Homo sapiens: one gene and its partners. The protein of the gene in region 1 purifies or fractionates together with the protein of each later gene. This does not show direct contact. Each region holds a gene or a part of one and is shown in the gene's direction. Other genes may lie near its edges.

Region 1 (4,286 bases):
TTAAAACTTTATTTGGCCAATGAATTCTGAGCACAATGTTTGAGGACCATATTTGCTACTGAAGCTCTGTGTGAAGGATGTGTACTTAATTTTCAGAATGTCGAGGTTAGATCATCTCTGATGGAGGCATTTTATATGAAACGTCAGCATTGGAAACATTGAGATAAAGATCGGGAGCAGGAATCTTTGAACTGCAGAATTGTGTTAATTGCTCATTCTCAAATATAGAGACGCCAATTAATTCCACACAACCTAGATTCAAAGCAGCACAGGGAAATGGTCCTGAGGTGAGTATTGTACAAAAATGAAGAAAAATAGATGTGTTCTAGCGTCCACAAAGCTGATTCTTCAACAGGCAGTAATAGAAGCCCAATGCACCCAGCGATTGGCTGATGGCATCTTTGTTCAGGCGATCGATGAGCGCCCTAACCCACACGCTGGGTGGAGAAATCCCTCTGCCACCCTCACCTTCAGAATCCACTGCTCAGCCACCTGGCTCCCGCGGGGTGCGCCACCGCCTCACTGCTGGTACACGTCTCCCCCTCTCGACCGCCAAGTGCTTGCTCCCTCCAGGCGAGCACTCACACAATGGACTCACTTGTTTCCCATGCCCCTCTCCTTTGACTTCCAGCCTCAGCGAACAACTTGAGCAAGAGTCAAACAGGAGTCTCTGCCATGGAGCATAGACCCTTGGAGCTTTCCAGACCAGCTCAGAAGCACGGGCGCACACACAGACAAAACAATGCCTTGTCCACGAATGAATAAAGGACACCCATGCCCCCACCCACCGCTCCGCAACCCGCAGAAAGAAACCCGGGACGGGGTTTCCTAAATAAGAGATTTTGTTGTGTCTTTCAAACTGCAAGCATTCCCCTTGAAGACGGCGAAAGAGAGGCTGTGCGTTCAGATGGCAATAAAGATTGACAGTGGCTTTGCCCGTGACAACGCCCCCAGCATCGCGCTGAGCCAGGTTCCCTGAGAACCGGGAGGGGGAAACGCAGATCTAGGGAGGAGGGAACAGCAGAGGCAAAGGCAGCTTGGGAGGGATGGGAAATGGAAAATCAGGGAAACAAACAAACAAACAAACAAAATGAATGAGTGAATGTGGGCTTGAATAGTAAAACTTCCAGAGAGAAGACGATGGGATCTCTCCCCAGGTAACTACCTGTAGATGAAAAATAGATGAAATACACAAGGAAGTGGCAAGCAACAACTTTGAGGTGAGCAGCAAGTTGTGCACCTCCTCTCAAGGCGCTGGATCAGCACCCCTGAGCTGCCCCCACAGCACACACTCCCAATGCGAGGCGGCGGCGGCAGCAACAGAGGCAGCAGCAGCAATCGCGGCAGCAGCGGCAGAGGCGGCGGCAGCTGCGCGCCTCGGGCCCAACCCCGCTCGGCTCCCCCTCTCGCCGGCGCCCTGCCTGTCTTGCGTGTGCGTGTGCGTGTGCTCAGCCTCAGCGTGAGGGGCACCTGCTCGTCTGGGCTCACAGCGAAGGCAGCCTCGCCGCGAGCTGCCGCTGCCGCTGCTGCCGCCACTGGTGTTGCCGCTCTCAGGCGCCAGGCTCCCCGTCGCCGCCGCCGCCGCCTCGCCAGCCAGAGTTGGGCTCCGTGGGCTTCCCCCCTCGCAGCCTCGGTCCTTCCCCGCTGCCTGCAAGTCAGCCTGGCTCCGAGTCACGTGTCAGTGCCTGAGGCAGAGACTGCGAGAAAAAAACGCGCTTCATTCCTTCTTCCACCGCCATACTGTATTTTATACTAAATCTCATTTTTATTCCAACATTTTACTCCCGCTCGGTGAGTACCTTCTCAGTGGCATTCTTGTCCTATTCTTTTTTTTGTCCTTTTTTTTGGTTTTTTGTTTTTTTTGTTTTTGTTTTTTTTCTTTTTTTCCACTTCTTTGATTATTGTTTATATTTGGGAAAGCTGGAGGAGCATGGTTTTGAGCCTTTTCCTGAATCCAAGTTTTTCTAGCATGCGATCGTTCTGTAGACAAGGCGCTGTGTCTCGGAGTCCGCGGCGACCGTGCCCGCTGGGAGCGTCTCCCAAGTCCAGCAAAATGTGCAACTGGTTTTATGGAAAAAGCGATGTGAAGTATGGTGCCTATTTTTTTCCTTTGTAAAAATAAAAAGCATGTTTCTAACTCTTTTTTTGCATACTCTTTTTCTGATAACATTTTTGTATAGGTGGGATTTTACGGCAGTGTTTACAAGTTTGTGGTCTTGCAATACTGGTGCAAACCACTGAGCAAAGACATTAATTTTATATTTTTTGTGCCCTTTTTGGAAGCCGGTGAAAACAAATTCGTTTTTTTTCCCTCCTGTTTTTGATACCCATTGATAACATGAAACTTTTCTTACAGCTGGTGATTGGGATCATTTTTAAGCAAAATACTTTTTTCCTCCTTTAAATTAACTATGACTTTTGCACATTTGACTTTTTTAAAAAACCGAGATAATTTTATGATAGATATCCTGATATCTATATCTATATTGTCCCTTATTTCTCCCCCTTCCCTCCCCGTAAATCAATTTTCAAATGATGGCAGTGGAAGGTTTTTCTGGAAAAAAAAAAATGAAGTGCGGTTTGGTTTCCTTGTCAACGGAGGATGAAGTGAACAGCTGAGCAGCTCGCAGAGAGCAGGTACTTGGTCCCCTTGGAGGCGTTTCCCGGGTGTGCAGTGGCAACACTGGTCCTAGCAAAGAAATGTGTGAGTGTGAGTGTGTGTGTGTGTCTGTGTTTGCGCGCGCGCATCTCCGGGCAGTGTCCGAGCCCGAGGTGGGGAGAGCGGCGCAGGGAGCCAGGGAAAACCAAAGTCCGTTCCCTGCTTCAGGATCGTTTTCTAGATGTGCGCAAAATACAGTCCCCTCCCCCCACCCCTCCCACGGTGAGCTGCGCCCAGGTCGTCTCCCGGCGGGGCGGGTGGCGTCTGCGCTGCGGGCCGCGCCGGCCGGGCACTAGGCGGCCGGCGGGCCCTGTAAGTTCTCCGAGGGCCACTTGCACAGCAGGAGGGGCGAGGGCCGTGTACGTGGCGCTGGCCGTCGGGCGGGCTAGAGGGGACCCTCAGAGCACCCGGGAGATGGGGGTAGAAGCGGCAGAGACCGCATATTCCGGAGGGGCTGGCTCCAGGCCACGCGAGCCGGAGCTGGAGACATTTCCAGAGCCTTGAGGATGGCACCGGCCCTCGCACGCTCAACTCCTGCTCCTCCTCTTCGCAATGAGTAAACGACGCAGTAGGTCCTACCCAGCCTATTTTGCTTTACCAAAGGGCTTTGCTTTCTTAGGGATGCTGTCTTTGGATCTTTTTTTTCCCTGTTGTGTTGCGTTGGTTTTAAGTGCCTGCTGGTGTCGTCTTCCAGGGGATGGGGAAATAGTTTCTTATAAGATGATCACTTGGGTTTAATGTTGAGGACGACGCTGTTAGTTTGCAGTAATGACCCTACACCTCTAAGGTATTAAAAAAATGCCTTTTATTTAAATTTTGTTAAAGGGGCAGAGTTTTCCCTCTTTTTAACCACCTGATACTGGCTCTAAAGGTTTTCCCCTGAGAACTGTGTACAGGGCAGGAGTGAGGGGTTGGTGATAGAGGTGATGATTTCGTGTGTTGGTAGCACTGACGTATTCAATGTTGAATGTATTCTATGATATTTTATGATTATCCTGTTACATGTTTTCAGTATAATTTAGCATTACTTTTCAGAGACGTACCAGTTGGCAATAAAAAGCCTTTTCTGTATTTAACACTGTGACCGAATCTGCTGGAAATTTTTCTGTCCAAATAAATTTCCTGAAGGCATACATCTTAAAATCTGGAGAGTCACCATTATTTAAATACTTTGATTTTGAAGCTTTGATTTTCTTACCTTTTCCCCCCTTAAATGAAAAGCTTAGCTTTAAATTACCATGTGTATATACTTTGAATTCTGTAAAATAAACATAAAGCAAATGAAACAACAACTTTTTACCTCTCAGATGAAGTTTTCTTCTAGGTAACTACAGAAATAAAAACTGACTGCAACATACAGAGGGGCCCATGACAAAGGGGTTTATAACATACACTGGCTTTTTCAAGCAAATATTTCACTGTCTGTAACCTCAGTTTGTGGAATGAAAGGTTTTACGCCTTAGTTTTTACTCTTTGTGGTCAAAAAGTAAGGCGTGCAATGGGCCATTTAACTGTAGAAGATTAAAAGTTAGTGTAATATCTGGAAAGTTGTATATATTTTTTATTCACAACTCATGCAAGTATCTCAAAAGTCTTTGGACATTTCATTGTATTTCCTGGCGGGGAA
Region 2 (3,500 bases), on another chromosome or scaffold:
GAGGTCAAGGATGCAGTGAGCTGTGAACACACACCACTACATTCCAGCCTGGGCAACAGAGTAAGACCCTGTCTCAAAAAAAAAAAAAATCAATAAATTTTTGCTACCATGGAAGGAAGAAGGGGAGAACGGATTGTGGTTGGTGGGGGTAGGTCACCTAACCATCTGCCAAGTAATTACTGTTATTACCACCACTATGATTGCGGCAACCTTGGTGTGCCAGGGCCCCCAGCACCCTGACACTGAACTCGCAGGTTCAGTGGTTTGCTAGAAAGACTCATGGCTTAGATTTATCACAGTGAAAGAGATCACAAAGCAAAATCAGCAGGGGGCGGGGTACCTGGGCTGAGGTCTGGAGGAAACCCGGCATGAACTTCCAAGAGTCCTTTCCCTGTGGAGTCCCAGGGGATGCGCTGAATTCCTCCAGCACTGAATTGTGACAACATGTGGCTTACCAGGGATGCCCACGAGAGATTCAGCACTCCAGGTTTTTAATTGGGGGCTGGTTTATTTTTATTTATTGTATTTATTTAGTTTTTAAAATTTCTTTTTGTTTTTGAGATGGAGTTTCACTCTTGTTGCCCAGGCTGGAGTGCAGTGGTATGATTTCGGCTCACTGCAACCTCCGCCTTTTGGTTTCAAGCAATTCTCCTGTCTCAGCCTCCCAAGTAGCTGGGATTACAGGTGCCCACCACCATGCCCGGCTAACTTTTGTATTTTTAGTAGAGACGGGGTTTCACCATGTTGGCCAGGCTGGTCTCGAACTCCTGACCTCGTGATCCACCTGCCTCGGCCTTCCAAAGTGCTGGGAATACAGGCGTGAGCCACTGTGCCCGACCCGTTATTTTTATTTTTATTTTATTTTATTTTTTGAGACAGAGTCCTACTCTGTTGCCCAGGCTGGAGTGCAGTGGCACAATCTCGGCTCACTGCAACGTCCACCTCCTGGGTTCAAGTGATTCTCTTGCCTCAGCCTCCCGAGCAGCTGGGATTACAGGCGCCCACCACCATGCTTGGCTAATTTTTTTCGTATTTTTAGTGAGATGGGGTTTCCCCATGTTAGCCAGCCTGGTCTCAAACTCCTGACCTCAGGTGATCCACCCACTTCGGCCTCCCAAAGTGCTGGGATTACAGGCGTGAGCCACCGCGCCCGGCCACTTTTAAAATTTTTTGTAGAGACAGGGTCTTGCTATGTTGCCTAGTCTGGCCTTGAACTCCTGGGCTGAAGCAATCCTCCTGCCTTGGCCTCCCAAAGTGCTTGGATTAGAGGTGTGAGCCACCATGTCAGCCTGGAGGCTAGTTTTGAACGCAGGCCCCTTCTGTCTAGTATGTACTGAAATTCCAGACCCCCCAGTAGGAAGGCGAATGCAGCGTACAGCGTGTTGTTCGCATAGTCCAAGCCTGGCCAGCCAGCCTCATCAGTTCACTGCTGACCTGGAGCACGCTGAGAGCAAATGGTCAGATGCCAGCAGGCCAGTCCGAGGAGAGGAGCCTCAGGCCTGCTGGGCAGCCCGTCTCCTGCACCGGCAGCTTAATAGTTCTCCCTGAAGCTGGGTGTCCCTATCTTTATCCCCCCAGGAGTGGGAGGAGCGGCGCAGGCAGAACATTGAGAAGATGAATGAGGAGATGGAGAAGATCGCCGAGTATGAGCGCAACCAGCGGGTCAGTGGTGCGGGTGTCCCCGAGGCAGGGCCGAGCTGCCTGGGCTGCGGGGAGCCCGCGCCAACCCCCTGCTCTGCTGCCTGCAGGAAGGGGTTCTTGAACCCAACCCAGTGCGGAACTTCCTGGACGACCCCCGGCGACGCAGCGGGCCCCTGGAGGAGTCTGAGCGGGACCGCCGGGAGGAGAGCCGCCGGCACGGCCGCAACTGGGGGGGCCCCGACTTCGAGCGGGTGCGCTGTGGCCTTGAGCACGAGCGGCAGGTGGGTGTTGGCAGTGAGGACACCTCGGGGCTCTCAGGGCTTTGATGGGGACTGCATAGCAGGAACCAGACAGATCAGGGCCATGGGGCCTCTCCTTTTTTGTGCCACAGCACAGGACTTTTTTTTTTTGAGACGGATTCTCGCTCTGTCACCCATTCTGGAGTGCAGTGGCACCATCTCGGCTCACTGCAGCCTTTGCCTCCTGGGCTCAAGCAATTCTGCCTCAGCCTCCCGAGTAGCTGGGATTACAGGCAAGTGCCACCACACCTGGCTAATTTTTTCGTATTTTGTAGAGACGGGGTTTCACCATGTTGGCCAGGCTAGTCTTGAACTCCTGACCTCAAGTGATCCACCTGCCTCGGCCTCCCAAAATGCTGGGATTATAGGTGTGAGCCACTGTGCTTGCCCAGGATTTTAATTATTAAGGATTTATGGTATGTTTTGTTTCCTGCCAAGGTAAATCTCCCCTCATTGTTAATGACACCAGCATTTATGAGGCACCTACCACATGGCAGGTGCTGTGTGAGGGGTGGGGACCTGGCCTAGAAGAGGAGGCAGGGGCAGTGTCCTTGCACTTGGTGGTCCACCCCTAAATTGTCCGTCTGTTGGTTCTTCTGTCAGTACCACGTGGCTCTAGTTGTTACAGCTTTGTGGTATGTTTGAGGGTTTTCTTGTTACTAACAGTATTGTTTACTGGGCACTTACTATGTGCCAGGTACTGTTTTAGGTGCTGAGGATAAGAGGTTTTTTTTTTTTTTTGAGATGGAGTCTTGCTCCATCGCCCAGGCTGGAGTGCAGTGGCGTGATCTTGGCTCACTGCAAGCTCCGACTCCCGGGTTCACACCATTCTCCTGCCTCAGCCTCCCCAGTAGCTGGGACTAAGGTGCCCACCACCATGCCCAGCTAATTTTTTGTACTTTTAGTAGAGATGGGGTTTCACCATGTTAGCCAGGATGGTCTCTATCTCCTGACCTCGTGATCTGCCCGCCTCAGCCTCCCAAAGTGCTGAGATTACAGGCGTGAGCCACCGCTCCTGGCTTTTTTTTTTTTTTTTTTTTTTTTTTTTTGAGACAGAGTCTTGCCCTGTTGCCTAGGCTGGAGTGCAGTGGCGCGATCTCGGCTCACTGCAAGCTCTGCCTCCTGGGTTCATGCCAGTCTCCTGCCTCAGCCTCCCGAAAAGCTGGGACTACAGGCACCCGCTACCACGCCCAGCTAATTTTTTGTATTTTTAGTAGAGACAGGGTTTCACCATATTAGCCAGGATGGTCTCCATCTCCTGACCTCATGATCCGCCTACCTTGGCCTCCCAAAGTGCTGGGATTACAGGCGTGAGCCACCGCGCCCGGCGGGAGAAGAGTTTGGAGGCAGAGCCCCTGCCTTGATGAGGTTTCTTCTGGTGGGAGCTGAGTAAATGAAAATATAGTGAGATGTGAGGTCCTACCAAGTGTTGTGGAGAAAAATCCAGCAGCTGAGGGGACAGAGGGATGCTACTTAGGAGATCTGAGAGGGCCTCTGTGAGGAGGTGCCACCTGAGCCTAGTTGATTGTGATCTCTGCCTTGTCATCGCTTCCCTGTGTG
Region 3 (3,500 bases), on another chromosome or scaffold:
CGAATTTGTGCATGTGCACACACGCCCTGCGTCAGTTTGTCCACAGGCAGGCTGACCTAACAGAGGTAATCACATAATAAAGGATAAAGTCCAGGAAGACATTTTCTGCTTCAGGTGGAAGCAGTATGGCAGTTTCCTTCTGTTGTGGCCCCCAGTGCACCTGAGAACAAGCATAACATGTCAAGGTTGAGATGAACATGACTCTGTAGACTTCAAAAAGAGGTGCAGTTGGTGGGAAGTCAAAAGAACCAGATTAAGAAAATTTTCATGGAAACTTCAGACTAATTCCCCTTGCCTCTGTCTCCCTGAATATAGCATAGGCCTAGGCAGTGAATCTTGTTGCAAGCCTGGTCCTAGTTCATGTTACTTCTAAAGCGAATCAAATAGGTATTTCTGGAGAGGACTCTGGCCTGAAAGGTGTCTCAGGAGGCCTGAGCTCTCATCCTGCCCTGGTTGCTGGTAACTTCTTTCCCCAGTCTTTCCTAGCTTAGCAGGTGGTTCTGTCTAGACCCATGAAGGTGACTGCTGGCCTGCCAGCATGGCCCCTCCATGGCACCAAGTGGCTGCATTTCTCACCACCTAAAGCCATCCAGCTCTTTCTGTGAGTGTTCTCTAAGGGCTACCAGGTACCTGGGACTGGGCTGGAGTTACGGACTTTTTTTGTTGCTTTTTTTTTTTTTTGAGATGGAGTCTCGCTCTGTCGCCCAGGCTGGAGTGCAGTGGCTTGATCTCGGCTCACTGCAAGCTCTGCCTCCCAGGTTCACGCCATTCTCCTGCCTCAGCCTCCCGAATAGCTGGGACTACAGGCGCCCACTACCACGCCCAGCTAATTTTTTTGTGTGTTTTTAGTAGAGATGGGGTTTCGCCGTGTTAGCCAGGATGGTTGCGATCTCCTGACCTCGAGATCCGCCCACCTCGGCCTCCTGAAGTGCTGGGATTACAGGCATGAGCCACCGCGCCCAGCCAAGAGTTATGGATTTTTAAATTCTGCACAGGCAATGAGGCTCCAGTTGTGCCTATGAGATGCAGCAGGCGTGTACCCTGTTGGAGTCTGGGACACCAAGCTGGGCCCTGCCAGGTGCCCCCCTTCTGAGATGTCCTGTTCTTTAGCTCCCTGGGCCACGTGGACTGGAAGTAGGAGCTTTCAACTGAGCTGGTGGTTTTCTCCCTTTCTTTGCAGGACAAGGAAGATGGGGAGCCAAAGACCAAGCATCTCAGAGAAGAGGAGGAAGAAGGCGAGAAGCACAGGTAATGCCCGTGTGCAGCTCCAGGGTCTGCTCTCTCCTCCAGCACTCATCGGTCTCCCAGTCTCTGGGTCCTCCCAACTCTGTTCAGTGTCTGCCCTGTTCCCTCCCCTCTTCTTTCTGCCCATGGCTGTCCTGTTCAGACCTTAAAATCTCAACATCTCAGAAGGCCCTTGTCGAGGCCTTCTCTGCCTCCTTTCCCTCATTTTCCATTTGGCTGTTACTCAGCCCCCAGCATTTTCTTTCTAGCCCTTACATTATGCCTTTTTACCCTTCTCATACACCTTTTGTGGCGTGGTTCTCCATTGCCTACTGAGTAAGTGCCCCTTCTGCACTTGGCATGTGAAGCTCTGCCTGGACCATCTAGCCTCATCCAACCTCCTCTGGTTTCCCTCTAGCCAGAGCCCTTTGTGGTCGGCCCTTGCCACCTCTGGCCACTCAGCATTTCCTGACCAGTCTTTTGTCCGTCCTCTCAGCCTGGAGGTCCTTCTCATCTCTCCTATACCTTTGATGTCTGGGTCTTCACATAGAGTTCAGCTCAAAGGGCGCCTTTCTCGTTGTCTGTGTCCCTCTGGCTTCATTTCCCTCTGTAGTATTTATCTTATTTTGTCGAATACTCTCATCTGGTTGGGTCCACTTAAGTTGCCTAAACACAGCACACGTGAGGGTCTTGGGTACACTTCCCTCGTGATTGCAGGCACAAGGTCTTCCCCCGCAGTCTTGAGGGCTGCAACCTCCACAGAGCCTCAGATGCTGCTTTGCCTCCCAAAAATCTGGAGCCTGGAAACTGTTGCCGGAACCAGTGTGTGGGGTGAGCGAGGCAAAGCTGTGCTGCTGATCTTTGTGAGCAGAGTGTCTGACTACCACTCCCGTGTCAGCAGTTCCAGAGGTCTCATGTCCTCCCTCCCATGCCTAGCCCTGAGATGGGGCTCTCTTCCTGGGGCCAGACTGTGTGTCTTTCTGGACAGGTTGCCTTGATTTCCTTTGCTCTGAGCAGCTTCCTTCAGGCACAGGGGGGTGTAGATCTTGATGGGCTTAGGCTCTGCTTTGCCCAGGGGGAGCGGGAGGGGAGGGAATGCTCTTTAGAGGAAGCTGGGCAGCCACACCAGAGCAGGCTTTCCTAATGCCACAGCCTTTTTTCACCTTCACCAGTATGAGTAGAACCTCCCCACATGCGGGCCTCATCTCTGCCTTTGTAATCAGGAGCAATCACAGACACGACTTACAGAGTGTTTTCACACCATCCTGAGAGCCCTGCAGAGTCCATGCCCCCTACTCGGGTTCAGACATGCTACCAGCTCTATGCTTAGAGGCTGGTGATGCTAAACAGTGAGTGGGTCTGCCGGCACTGGGCCTGGGGCTTTTTGTTGGGCCTCAGCCCCCAGCTCTTGAAGGTCCCTGGCTGGTGATGGGAAGATGAAGGCCAGTTAGTTGCTCCTTTGCCAGGTGACCCCAACATATGTGGCTTTATGGGTGGGTGCTGGCACAGTTTCCCCCATTCTGTGGTAACTACATATTAGAGGCCCTTTGGTCTTCTGGTTTATTCTTAGTTTCTCAAAAACTGGAACTCTGGCTGGAGCCTGAGTTCCAGTTTCTGGGCTTTGATTTGCTGGTGGTGTTTTCTCTGATCCCCACCCCTCCCCCTCCTCGATGAGAGAGAAGGGTCGCTGGTTTAGCAGGTGGGTGGGTGGGTCATACAGTAAGAGGCTTGAATGTTGAACCATATGGTTGTGAATCTCAAACATGGTGTTGAGTGAAGGAAAAAAGCAGGTTTCAGAATTGAGGCATACAGGGCAGGAACATTTATATCAAATTTAGGAACACAAAATGATATATGTGTGTTACTCAGTTGGCAAGTACTGACTTTATTGGTTGTCTGCTCTGTGCAGGGCACCATTGTGGGCCCCTGGAAGGCAACAGCAGACAAAGTACAGCCCCTACCCTCATGGAGCTGACATTTTCTGGAAGGAGACAGGCTGTTAACGAAGAAGCAGGCGTGTGATACAGTGTCAGGTGCTGCCAAGAAAGCGAAAGCAGAAGTGTAAACACATACATGAGGAGTGATGCCTCCGATTGCTGTCTGGGGAAGCAAGGAGGAAACAGGATTAGGGAAAGGCTCTATGATGTGTGATTTTTTTTTTCTTTTTTTTGAGATGGGGTCTCGCTCTGTCACCCAGGCTGGAGTGCAGTGGCGCTATCTCAGTTCACTGCAACCTCCACGTGGCTCCCAAGCTCAAGCGATCTTCCCACCTCAGC
Region 4 (3,500 bases), on another chromosome or scaffold:
GAGGGAAACTGATTGCAGGGGGTTAAGGAACTAATAAAGTAGGCTGGGCGTGGTGGCTCACACCTGTAATCCTAGCACCTTGGGAGGTCGAGGTGGGCAGTTCACGAGGTCAAGAGGTTGAGACCATCCTGGCCAACATGATGAAACCCCATCTCTACTAAAAATAGAAAAATTAACTGGGCATGGTGGCGGTCACCTGTAGTCCCAGCTACTTGGGAGGCTGAGGCAGGAGAATCACTTGAACCCGGGAGGCGGAGGTGGAGGTTGCAATGAGCCAAGATTGCGCCACTGCACTCCAGCCTGGCAACAGAGCGAGACTCCATCTCAAAAAAAAAAAAAAAAAAAAAAAAAGGTAAAGCACTTAGCATGGATGACTCTTCAGAAATTCAAAACTGAAGAGGAGGAAGTTTCTTAGTATGTGTGTTCATTTTGGATGGCGATGATTGAGCATATTTTTTTCTGAACAAAAAGCGCCAGCTGAGTAGACTCAGTAGATGAAAGGGAAGTGAAAATTGATGGAGCAAGGTCTTGAAGGCAACAGGAGGGAATGGAAACAAGGCCACAAGCCAGGAATAACCATAGAAGAGAGTGGCGTCTTAAATTTTTCCTAAACACTTGTTCTTTCCAAATGTTTTCCTTCACTTGGAAGTTGCTGCCTGCCTCCAAGTAGCTGGGACTACAGGCACACGCTGCCATGCCTGGCTAATTTTTTGTATTTTAGTAGGGATGGGGTTTCACTATGTGCATCTTTTCTAGACTGTAGCTTCCTTAGAACTGTATTTTTCTTCGCATTGCCTTTTCCTGTGTCCAGATGTCTGCATTTAAGTCCATGTAGAATCTTCTCTAGAACGCAGAAAGCCTTTTCCCTAATCTTCTCTTCCCAACTTTTTCCAGTAATATTTGTAAGGCACCTGGCATAAACATACTGGCCCGTGGGCTCCAGCAGCCTCCACGTAGGGCTGTTCATATTTACTGAGCAGGAATACTGTTGTAGCCATTCACCATTGATGCCTAGCAGCCAGAAGGGAGCTGCTGGAGAGTTTACACTTCAGACATGTAAAATGGCAGGGACATAGGAGAGTCATGGGAGATTCATCCCCCTATTGATGGCTTTTCATTCTGCAATTCTGACTAAAATTTGTTCATTTTTCTTTGAACCCAGGTCGTAAAGGTATCTTCACTGGAAGCTCGGGGCTGCAGATTGTGTACCTCAGTGGGACAGAATCCTTAAATGAGCCAGTACCAGGTTATAGTTTTAGTCCCAAGGATGTGTCTTCTCTGAGAATGATGCTGTGTACAACCTCCCAGTTTAAGGGTGTTGATATCTTGCTCACATCCCCATGGCCCAAGTGTGTGGGGAACTTTGGGAATTCTTCTGTGAGTAGTGTTTGTTTAGTTGGAATTTCTAAAAGCAAATTGCACTGGCTTGAGTTGGGACTTTTTTCTTTTCCTGTTTATATTGAGTATTTTAGCTCTTGGGTACCTTTTATTAGAAGTCTTCTGTGAAAATTTTCAGGATTCTAAAAGTTCTGTCAACTGATCAAAGCAAAAGTTAATTTCATGAAAGTGTGATTCATAGATGAGACTGCTGAAATCTTAATTATAAAGGAATGGTTTTTTATATTCTCTGCTTCAAGTGCCCTTTCCTAAGCCTCTTAATGTTTTGAGGCTTCACTGATTTTTTTGTTTTTTGTTTTTTGTTTTTTTTTGAGATGGAGTCTCACTCTGTCGCCCAGGTTGGAGTGCAGTGGTGCGATCTTGGCTCACTGCAACCTCCTCCTCCCGGGTTCAAATGATTCTCCTGCCTCAGCCTCCTGAGTAGCTAAGATTATAGGCATGCGCCACCACGCCTGGCTAATTTTTTTTTTTTTTTTTTGAGATGGAGTTTTGCTGTGTCACCCAGGCTGGAGGGCAGTGGCGCCATCTCTGCTCACCACAACCTCTGCCTCCTGGGTTCAAGCAATTCACCTGCCTCAGCCTCCCAAGTAGCTGGGACTATAGGCGCACACTGCCATGCCTGGCTAATTTTTTGTATTTTATTAGAGATGGGGTTTCAGCATGTTGCCCAGGCTAGTCATGAACTCCTGAGCTCAGACAATCTGCCTGCCTCGGCCTCCCAAAGTGCTGGGATTACAGGCGGATTTTTTTGTATTTTTAGTAGAGATGGGATTTCACCATGTTGGCCAGGCTGGTCTCAAACTCCTGACCTCAAGTAATTTGCCCACCTCAGCCTCCCAAAATGCTGGGATTACAGGCATGAGCCACCGTGCCCAGCCTAATTTTTGTATTTTTAGTAGAGACAGGGTTGCCCAGGCTGGTCTTGAACTCCTGCGCTCTAGTGATCCACCCGCCTTGGCCTCCCAAAGTGCTGGGATTACAGGCGTGAGCCACCATACCTGGCCAGATTTTAATATTTTATGAGTAATCTTGAAAAGGATGGTACACCAGGAGTGACAACTATCATGGGGAGTGAAACGCTACACTGGTGGAAGTAAGCCTAAGGAAGATTTTGAAAAGGTTATGTGTGAGGGCAGAAAACACTGGGTGAGCTTCATTGAAGGGAAATGTAAGAATGCATTTGGGAACAAATCTCCATGGTTGGATTCAGGATTATCAGTGATGATCCAGAAGTGGAGCCTGTATACCACCCCTTGCCAGTTTCAGCACCATGTGTCCATGACCAAAAAGGCCAACAGGATACCAGGCATTATCAAGGAGGATGCTCTCTTCCTTTTTGACAAACCCATGATTACTCTTTACGTAGAATACAAGGCATAGAGCTGGTTGGAGCACAAGGATATAGCAAAGCTAGGGAAGATCGAGAGAAGGGCTGCTAAAGTGATGAAGGAAGAGAGAAAGACACATATGATGCTCTGTAAGGAAGGATGAGAAAATGAGGCCCCTTTGTTTTGCGGGGAGCTAAAAATTGATTTTGATCAAGGCTTATAAATAACCATACAGTATATTTATGGAGGAGAAAAGTATAGTTCACCAGTCCCTAAGATGCTAGGACTGACCTCAAAGCTAATTCCCTGCCCTTCAGCAGAAACCTGAAGGAAACAAGCATAAGACAAAAGGAAATTCCTGCTTTACGTAGTGGAAAACAAACTTTGTTAGCTTATTTCCAAGTAATACCTTCTCTTAGAATAGAGTTCATAAATAATGCTGTGGGTGAGAGATCACTTAATTGGTTGTTAACAGAATCTGGGGATGTTCTGGGAGCAAGAATAACTTTGAGCAAACTTCATATTACTTAAGAAGGGTGTGGTTATGCCCTTCCTCAAACTGCCACTTCCTTGACTGAAGCAAAATAAAGGATTATATGCTGGTGATGAAGTCCTTGAATACTCTATACCAGATATTCTGTGGATCCTAGGAGCCCTGAAGCCTAGCTTTTCGCTTTGATTTTCTGAATTGACTATGACTGTCTGGACCCGTGAACTACAGATGCACTACGTAACAAACTAGAGGCTGGGCGCAGTGGCTCACGCGTGCACTTT

What was found.
Region 2: the proteins of RALYL (region 1) and CCDC9 purify together in Homo sapiens (affinity purification with mass spectrometry; 3 studies listed by BioGRID and IntAct, with this or other methods). This does not show direct contact.
Region 3: the proteins of RALYL (region 1) and CCDC12 purify together in Homo sapiens (affinity purification with mass spectrometry; 3 studies listed by BioGRID and IntAct, with this or other methods). This does not show direct contact.
Region 4: the proteins of RALYL (region 1) and CWF19L1 purify together in Homo sapiens (affinity purification with mass spectrometry; 2 studies listed by BioGRID and IntAct, with this or other methods). This does not show direct contact.

Annotation. Positions count from the first base shown.
Region 1 is NC_000008.11:84,181,788-84,186,073, forward strand, and holds the start of RALYL (RNA-binding Raly-like protein), read left to right. Parts: upstream 1-1,486; 5' UTR 1,487-2,637; intron 2,638-2,883; exon of another isoform or gene 2,884-3,211; coding exon of another isoform or gene 3,212-3,227; exon of another isoform or gene 3,228-3,396; coding exon of another isoform or gene 3,397-3,446; intron 3,447-4,286.
Region 2 is NC_000019.10:47,263,025-47,266,524, forward strand, and holds part of CCDC9 (coiled-coil domain-containing protein 9), read left to right. Parts: intron 1-1,578; coding exon 1,579-1,662; intron 1,663-1,748; coding exon 1,749-1,922; intron 1,923-3,500. UniProt on the Homo sapiens protein: Probable component of the exon junction complex (EJC), a multiprotein complex that associates immediately upstream of the exon-exon junction on mRNAs and serves as a positional landmark for the intron exon structure of genes and directs post-transcriptional processes in the cytoplasm such as mRNA export, nonsense-mediated mRNA decay (NMD) or translation.
Region 3 is NC_000003.12:46,938,746-46,942,245, reverse strand, and holds part of CCDC12 (coiled-coil domain-containing protein 12), read left to right. Parts: intron 1-1,180; coding exon 1,181-1,248; intron 1,249-3,489; exon of another isoform or gene 3,490-3,500.
Region 4 is NC_000010.11:100,254,139-100,257,638, reverse strand, and holds part of CWF19L1 (CWF19-like protein 1), read left to right. Parts: intron 1-1,162; coding exon 1,163-1,377; intron 1,378-3,500.